Linked DNA regions of Homo sapiens. The protein of the gene in region 1 interacts with the protein of each later gene in a pairwise test. Each region holds a gene or a part of one and is shown in the gene's direction. Other genes may lie near its edges.

Evidence for each region. Proteins that work in one complex are often made in the same cells at the same time.
Region 2: the proteins of HTN1 (region 1) and MUC7 interact in a two-hybrid assay, tested with the Homo sapiens proteins (one study listed by IntAct).

Annotation. Positions count from the first base shown.
Region 1 is NC_000004.12:70,048,893-70,052,652, forward strand, and holds the start of HTN1 (histatin-1 isoform 1 precursor), read left to right. Parts: upstream 1-1,545; 5' UTR 1,546-1,603; intron 1,604-3,760.
Region 2 is NC_000004.12:70,478,683-70,482,342, forward strand, and holds part of MUC7 (mucin-7 precursor), read left to right. Parts: intron 1-2,116; coding exon 2,117-3,196; 3' UTR 3,197-3,660. UniProt on the Homo sapiens protein: May function in a protective capacity by promoting the clearance of bacteria in the oral cavity and aiding in mastication, speech, and swallowing. Binds P.aeruginosa pili.

The DNA of each region.
Region 1 (3,760 bases):
AATTTAAATCTAATATACTTGAATTACATATTTGCCTAAATAAATAATTTACATTTTTGTATATTACCTATAGAATACCATAATTTCTAATAGGACTGTTCAAATTAGCATAGATGATTTATCTAAGAAATATTTCCTTTAAAAACTCACACACAAATTCATTTTATTTTATTTTATTTTACTTTCCTATTTTACTTTAAGTTCTGGGATACGTGTGCAGAACATGCAGATTTGTTGCATTGGTAAACGTGTGCCATGGTGGTTTGCTGCACCTATCAACCCATCATCTAGGTTTTAAGCCCCACATGCATTAGCTATTTGCCCTGATGCTCTCCCTCCCTTCCCCACCACCAGGCCCTGGTGGGCGTTGTTTCCTTCCCTGAATCAGACACAAATTTAAAACACAATTTCTAATTAGTGGGATCAAGCTAAAGACCATGCGTTTATAAATCTCTTAAGTAGTTTTTCTATCTTTAAAGTACACAAAGAGTTTCCTGGACATGTTCTTAAAATTCCGGTTCCAGGTGTACACCACAAGATTCTGACTCAGTAAGTTTGGAAAAGTAGAATAAGAATCTGCATTTCAACAGCTACTAGCTGATGCTGATCATGATGGTCGCATGTGGCACCCTCTGAGGAACAATGGACTGGGCTGTATAACTTATCTGAACTTTAGAAAAGAGTTTTTAATACTCAGTTCTTAGCACATCAAATTCTCCAACCGGTAGAGAGTAGGTGAATGCTTATACATGTTTGCCTATGAATTAAATTAAAATTCTGTTTTTCTCTTTCTGTCTAATATAGTTATTTCAACAAATGGCCTCTATAAATATATATGAACCTCAGAAAACTCCAGGGAAGTAAATTCAAATTTCTAAACATAAGAAATCAGTTTTATGTGAGAGATATGTGACCAAGCACCTAGAATCTTTTGACATTAAATATGAGAATGTTTTTATCATATGATATCCAAAAGATGATTGAATTTTGGCAAATGTTTACATTCACTTTATTACTTAAAACACTCAAAGTCAATGTAAAGGTAAAAATACAAGATAAATAATGATTTGTAGGAAAACTTTTGAAGTATAGAATGACTCCAATTTTATTATGCCAATTATCACTATTTACTAGAGAATGTGTAAAATTTTGATAACATGGTAAGTATTATTTTTGACATAGCGTTGTTCCATCTTGGACATATATTTGTTGAAAAGTAGTAGATGGTATTCTACAGAAACATCTTTATCACTGCAATCATTTCTATGCCTGGTTTCCTCCAGCGTGCTTTTCCGTTGTCTGACTCACTCAGGGCTAGACTAACACTGGGATTAGCATGTGATGGGTCCATTCGCTTTCCGGTTGCTTTGTCTTCACAATGATCTATTGTAAAATCACCTGGTTAAGTTTATTTTTAGAATTTGTAGAGACAGATTTTGGGCATTACTTTCCGTCTCAATCATATGATCTCCTAATTGATGCTATTTAGAAAAACAAAAGGGAGATTTCAACGTGTTTAAATACATCAGCCATATAGAAAAGGACATCTCTTGAGACTTCACTTCAGCTTCACTGACTTCTTGACTCTCCTCTTGAGTAAAAGGTAATATGTTCAAGTACAATCTAATATTATATATTAGCATAAGCTTTTGTTTGCTAAAATCAATAGTAACCCACTTATGAAAATGTATATTATCTATTTAAATCTAGTTTACTTGAATTGCGTATTTGCCTAAATAAATAATTTACATTTTTGTATATTACCTATAGAATACCATAATTTCTAATAGGACTGTTCAAATTAGCATAGATGATTTATCTAATAAATATTTCCTTTAAAAACTCACACACAAATTCATTTTATTTTATTTTATTTTACTTTCTTATTTTACTTTAAGTTCTGGGATACGTGTGCAGGACATGCAGATTTGTTGCATTGGTAAACGTGTGCCATGGTGGTTTGCTGCACCTATCAACCCATCATCTAGGTTTTAAGCCCCGCATGCATTAGTTATTTGCCCTGATGCTGTAATGTGTACAATTTTGTACTCGGGATCTGAAGATGACTTCCAGATCTCAATTCCTATGAATTAACACCAGCAATCATCACGCAAAGTAAATTATGTGGAATATGGCAATGTATTACATCCTCTCTGATGGTGGGACCTCAATTAACTCTTTTTATTTCCTTGTCTAGATACCTAATATCTACTTTCTTAATTATTAATTCTACATTTAACTTAAACCAGGAGTTCAAATTTTACAAGAAGATACTGATAAATTCTCTCTTGGTAAATATATTATTATAAAGGTTTATTTTTAAAAATTTACTTTCTTCTTAATAGGAAACTATTTTATTACTTTTTTATTGACCTTTCCATCATTTAAAACAGTGCTGTTATAATGCAAAGCATATACTGTATAAGAGTTAGTCATCTCAATCTTACTAATTTGTTTAACTCATTTTCATTCATTTGTGTTATGGCAGAAAAGAAAGAGTTTACTGTTCCAAATTTTTATTGATGTGTTACTTGGGAAATATGTTTTTCATAACCATTAATTGTATATTGATTATCTATGTTCGTTTATCTATCAGTTTATGTGTTAGTAAAAGAAGACCAATTTCTTAGAACCCTTTTTTATTTTGTACTTGCAACAGAATTGACAATCATTAACAACAGTAAAATTCTCATGCCTTTTGTATCATAAAAAGAGTTGTAGTAGGATTTATATATTAGGTAATAGAAAAACTTCAAAATACATAATTTTTATAGTTAGTCCTATAGTAGAAGTTTCCATTTAATTGAGTGAAGCAAAATAAACGAATAAATAATATGGTAAATGCCATAAATCTTGGGTTCTGCTTTTCATGATAGAGATGTAGGGCTGTTTAAGAGCAGGACATTTTATTATAATTAGATGAAAAATGTTACTGTAATGTTATATCACAAATGACAGGAAAGAGAGATTAGAAAAAAATTTTTAAATTACCTATTAATGAATTACTTTATAACTGCAATTAACAGCCAAAAATGCCATGTAACTGTAAGTCTTGTGGTAATTGTATTTTCCAATGGAAATGCTTTTATTTACGTTTGTAATTTAGAAATAAGTAACCTGCTATACTTTTTTATATCTGCAAAGGAACTGGATACACTTGCATATACATAATTATAAAAGCATATCAGAGTCCCAGATGAGGCTAACTTTGTTGAATAATATTATTTGAAATATTGAATAATCTTCACCAGTTCAACTTCTCAAAGTAGATACAATCATTTTCCCTGTGAATTCTCTTCATTTTATTTTTCGCTACCCAATATCACTAATGTTCTAATCTCAGGGTTACACCATCTGTGGATTCTGTAATAGAACTCTGGCTCATAGTCACTGACTTTATTATAAAGCCAGTCTCCATTGCTTTTCATTCTACTTTCCTAATATCTCTTTACACTGTACCTTAATTAGCATTCTTAATGTCATTATATAAGTCCCCTGTAGTGTCACAACAACCTAAGTGGTCATCTTTTCTCCAGTTTTGTCCTCCCTATGTGTTGAACTGTTTGCATTTTTAACATGCTTTCCTCTCTGTTTTATTTCTTTATAGGCTCCCAACACCACCCTTTACTCATTCCATATAATCCAACTCAAGCTTGCCTTTCTTCATTACCTTCTTACTCCCATCCTCTTGGTCTGTTTAAGATGTCCATTTGTGTGTTTCATTAGCATATTAATATTTCCAAATCAGAGCACTCACCTT
Region 2 (3,660 bases), 430 kb from region 1:
TCATGGAATGTGAGGCCCTCAATCCTGCTTCAGTCAGAGCAGGTCCTTAATTATGTGGATTGCATATTCAATCTCCAGGGAAAGATCTGTTTGAACAATATGACCTGTTCTATTTTATATGAGAAAACAACTACCCCTGTAATGGAAAGGATCTCCTCAGAGATTCCTGGAGTCAGTGTTACCGATTCTGAAAACCTATGCCCTTTTAAGAGAGATTTATGGAAAAATACCAAAGTCATGTGAGTATCAGAAGCCATTATGTTAGCTATTGGTTGTTCTCAGTTGTGAATTAAAATTTCCTGGACAATTTAATTTTCTAAACAAATAATACTTTCTTGTATTGATGGATGTTGTGGAGAATGTCCAGATCTTAGAGGAACATATTTGAAACACACTGCAACAGACCAGCAGTGGAGGTTTTAGTCTGTCCTATGTCTGGCATTGAATAATTGAATGACTTTGGGCAAGTCACTTAATATGCCTGGATCTCAGTTTATTCATTTATGAAATGATTCGGATTAAATTAAATTCCAGATCCAAAATCTAATTCTATGACCTCTTTGCTTTGAAATAGTTATGTGGTTCATTCCCTCAATCACATGAGCCTCACGATGGTCCCTGTTTCATTCACCTCTGAAAGCCCAGTACCTAGAAGCTATTTTTGAGGTTGGATATATTAGTCTCTGAGGAAGTTATCTTAGTTAAACAACTCAGCTAGTCTCTCAGAAGTTGTCACTTCATCTGCACTAAACTTTGTGTCCAAAGAAAGCTTTATAACTTGCGACTGGAATGATTTACCCATTTGGTCATCTAAAAAGGGCTTCTGTGAACATCATTAGGAAGAAAACGTAACCTATCCTTGTTTGGGATGTTCTCATTTATCCTGTTATATTTCTTTTCTCCAATTTAATATAACTGATCACTAAAAAATGTAGTATGAGATTGAATACAGGGAAGAGGGATATAAAAGGCATGAAGTATGTTTACAGATAAGAAACTGAAACAGTGATGGTACTCTAACTCAAATAATGTCAGCAATGGCTAAAGGAAATAAAAATATCTTGCAAAATGATGACCCACATGGCATAGAAGTTATTTTCAAATTTTGAAAGACTTCTGGATCTTCTGTAAATCTGCCAAAACAAAATTAGGACCAAAGGATGGAAATCTTCATGAAGAAAATTCTACTCAGTTAAGAATGAAAATCCCAAAAAACAAACCTACATTCAGTGTCAAGAACTCTCTACCAGGCGGCCTTAGGAATTACAGTAGTGAGTTCCTAATCAGAAGAGGTTAGATGCATAGACTAGAAAGCCTTTCAGCAGGTGTATTGATAAAAGATCAAGTATCAGATGTACAGTTGGACTGGATCAGTGTTCTTTTCAGATGTAAACACCTTTCAGAAATCATGAAAACCATTGGTGCTCTATCCAGACAAAATGCATAAACATGCAAATTTTCTCTAAAAATCAGATGACTCATGAACCCCCGAATCATGAATTCTATAATTCTAATTTTTTAAACAATAAAGTTAAAAGGTAATGACCAAAGTTGTTTCTCCAATTTATAAAGGCTAAAAACTGTTTCCTGAAATATGGAGAACATGAAGCCGGGGTGGGATATTTTGTTTGTTGGGGCTTTGTTGTTGTTTGGCTGTTTCGTATTTTGATGATGGTAGATATGAGGGGTGTAATCTAGAAAGGGCTCCTGGATCTCAGTTGAATGTCTTTGACTAAAGTTTTGTGAACAGGCTGAGCAAGCAGGAAGCTTTTGTGATGGGACCTCAGGCAGTAACTTGACCATTTTCCACCAGAGGAAGAAGAGAGGAACTGTAAGCACAAAAGTTCGTATCCAGCTAAGCATTCAAGCTAGAACCCACAGGAATATATTCATCCCAGCTATCTAGAGAGTAGACATTTGACAAAAGAAAACTCTCTAGTAGCAATTCTTTCTTGAAACTTGGTGAAATTAGGAAGATAATCACTTGACTCAATAATGTACTCTGGTTTCTAATCCCAGCATTCCACAAATACCGCTCATCTCATGGTCAGCAGTGATCACCTGATTGATAAATGGATACTTTTTTCATTTCTTACATTTTCTTTCTTTTCTGCAGTTCAGTGAAGGTCGAGAAAGGGATCATGAACTACGTCACAGAAGGCATCATCACCAATCACCCAAATCTCACTTTGAATTACCACATTATCCTGGACTGCTAGCTCACCAGAAGCCGTTCATTAGAAAGTCCTATAAATGTCTGCACAAACGCTGTAGGCCTAAGCTTCCACCTTCACCTAATAACCCCCCCAAATTCCCAAATCCTCACCAGCCACCTAAACATCCAGATAAAAATAGCAGTGTGGTCAACCCTACCTTAGTGGCTACAACCCAAATTCCATCTGTGACTTTCCCATCAGCTTCCACCAAAATTACTACCCTTCCAAATGTGACTTTTCTTCCCCAGAATGCCACCACCATATCTTCAAGAGAAAATGTTAACACAAGCTCTTCTGTAGCTACATTAGCACCAGTGAATTCCCCAGCTCCACAAGACACCACAGCTGCCCCACCCACACCTTCTGCAACTACACCAGCTCCACCATCTTCCTCAGCTCCACCAGAGACCACAGCTGCCCCACCCACACCTTCTGCAACTACACAAGCTCCACCATCTTCCTCAGCTCCACCAGAGACCACAGCTGCCCCACCCACACCTCCTGCAACTACACCAGCTCCACCATCTTCCTCAGCTCCACCAGAGACCACAGCTGCCCCACCCACACCTTCTGCAACTACACCAGCTCCACTATCTTCCTCAGCTCCACCAGAGACCACAGCTGTCCCACCCACACCTTCTGCAACTACCCTAGACCCATCATCCGCCTCAGCTCCACCAGAGACCACAGCTGCCCCACCCACACCTTCTGCAACTACACCAGCTCCACCGTCTTCCCCAGCTCCACAAGAGACCACAGCTGCCCCAATTACCACACCTAATTCTTCCCCAACTACTCTTGCACCTGACACTTCTGAAACTTCAGCTGCACCCACACACCAGACTACTACTTCGGTCACTACTCAAACTACTACTACTAAACAACCAACTTCAGCTCCTGGCCAAAATAAAATTTCTCGATTTCTTTTATATATGAAGAATCTACTAAACAGAATTATTGACGACATGGTGGAGCAATAGTATATTGTATGTTGTAAAGTGTTCTGTCATTTACAAGATGTGATTCATGAGTGCAGAACTACCACCTTTCTTTTAGCACCAATCCCAACATGAAATTATATTACTCAGATTTAAAGCACTATCATTAATCTTTCAATCTAATTATTCACCACCACAAGACCTATTAACAAGACAAAATGCCTCTATCCCACAAGCCAGATGCAGGTCTGGGGTTCAAAATAACTCTTTGGATCCTACAGAGATAGCCTACTGAGGGCAAAGAAAGTCCTTAGATAAAGAGAGAATATTGTATGGGCCATCAACCATTTACTTTTCCCTGAATGTTAGAAACTACAAAACCACTACCTTGTACCCCCATCAAAATCCCACCTGAACCATCTAATCCTATAAACATAAAGGGGTAAAATTGGAACTCTCCAGATGAACAAAGACATCTAAATATCTGTAGATAGAAACATTTATCT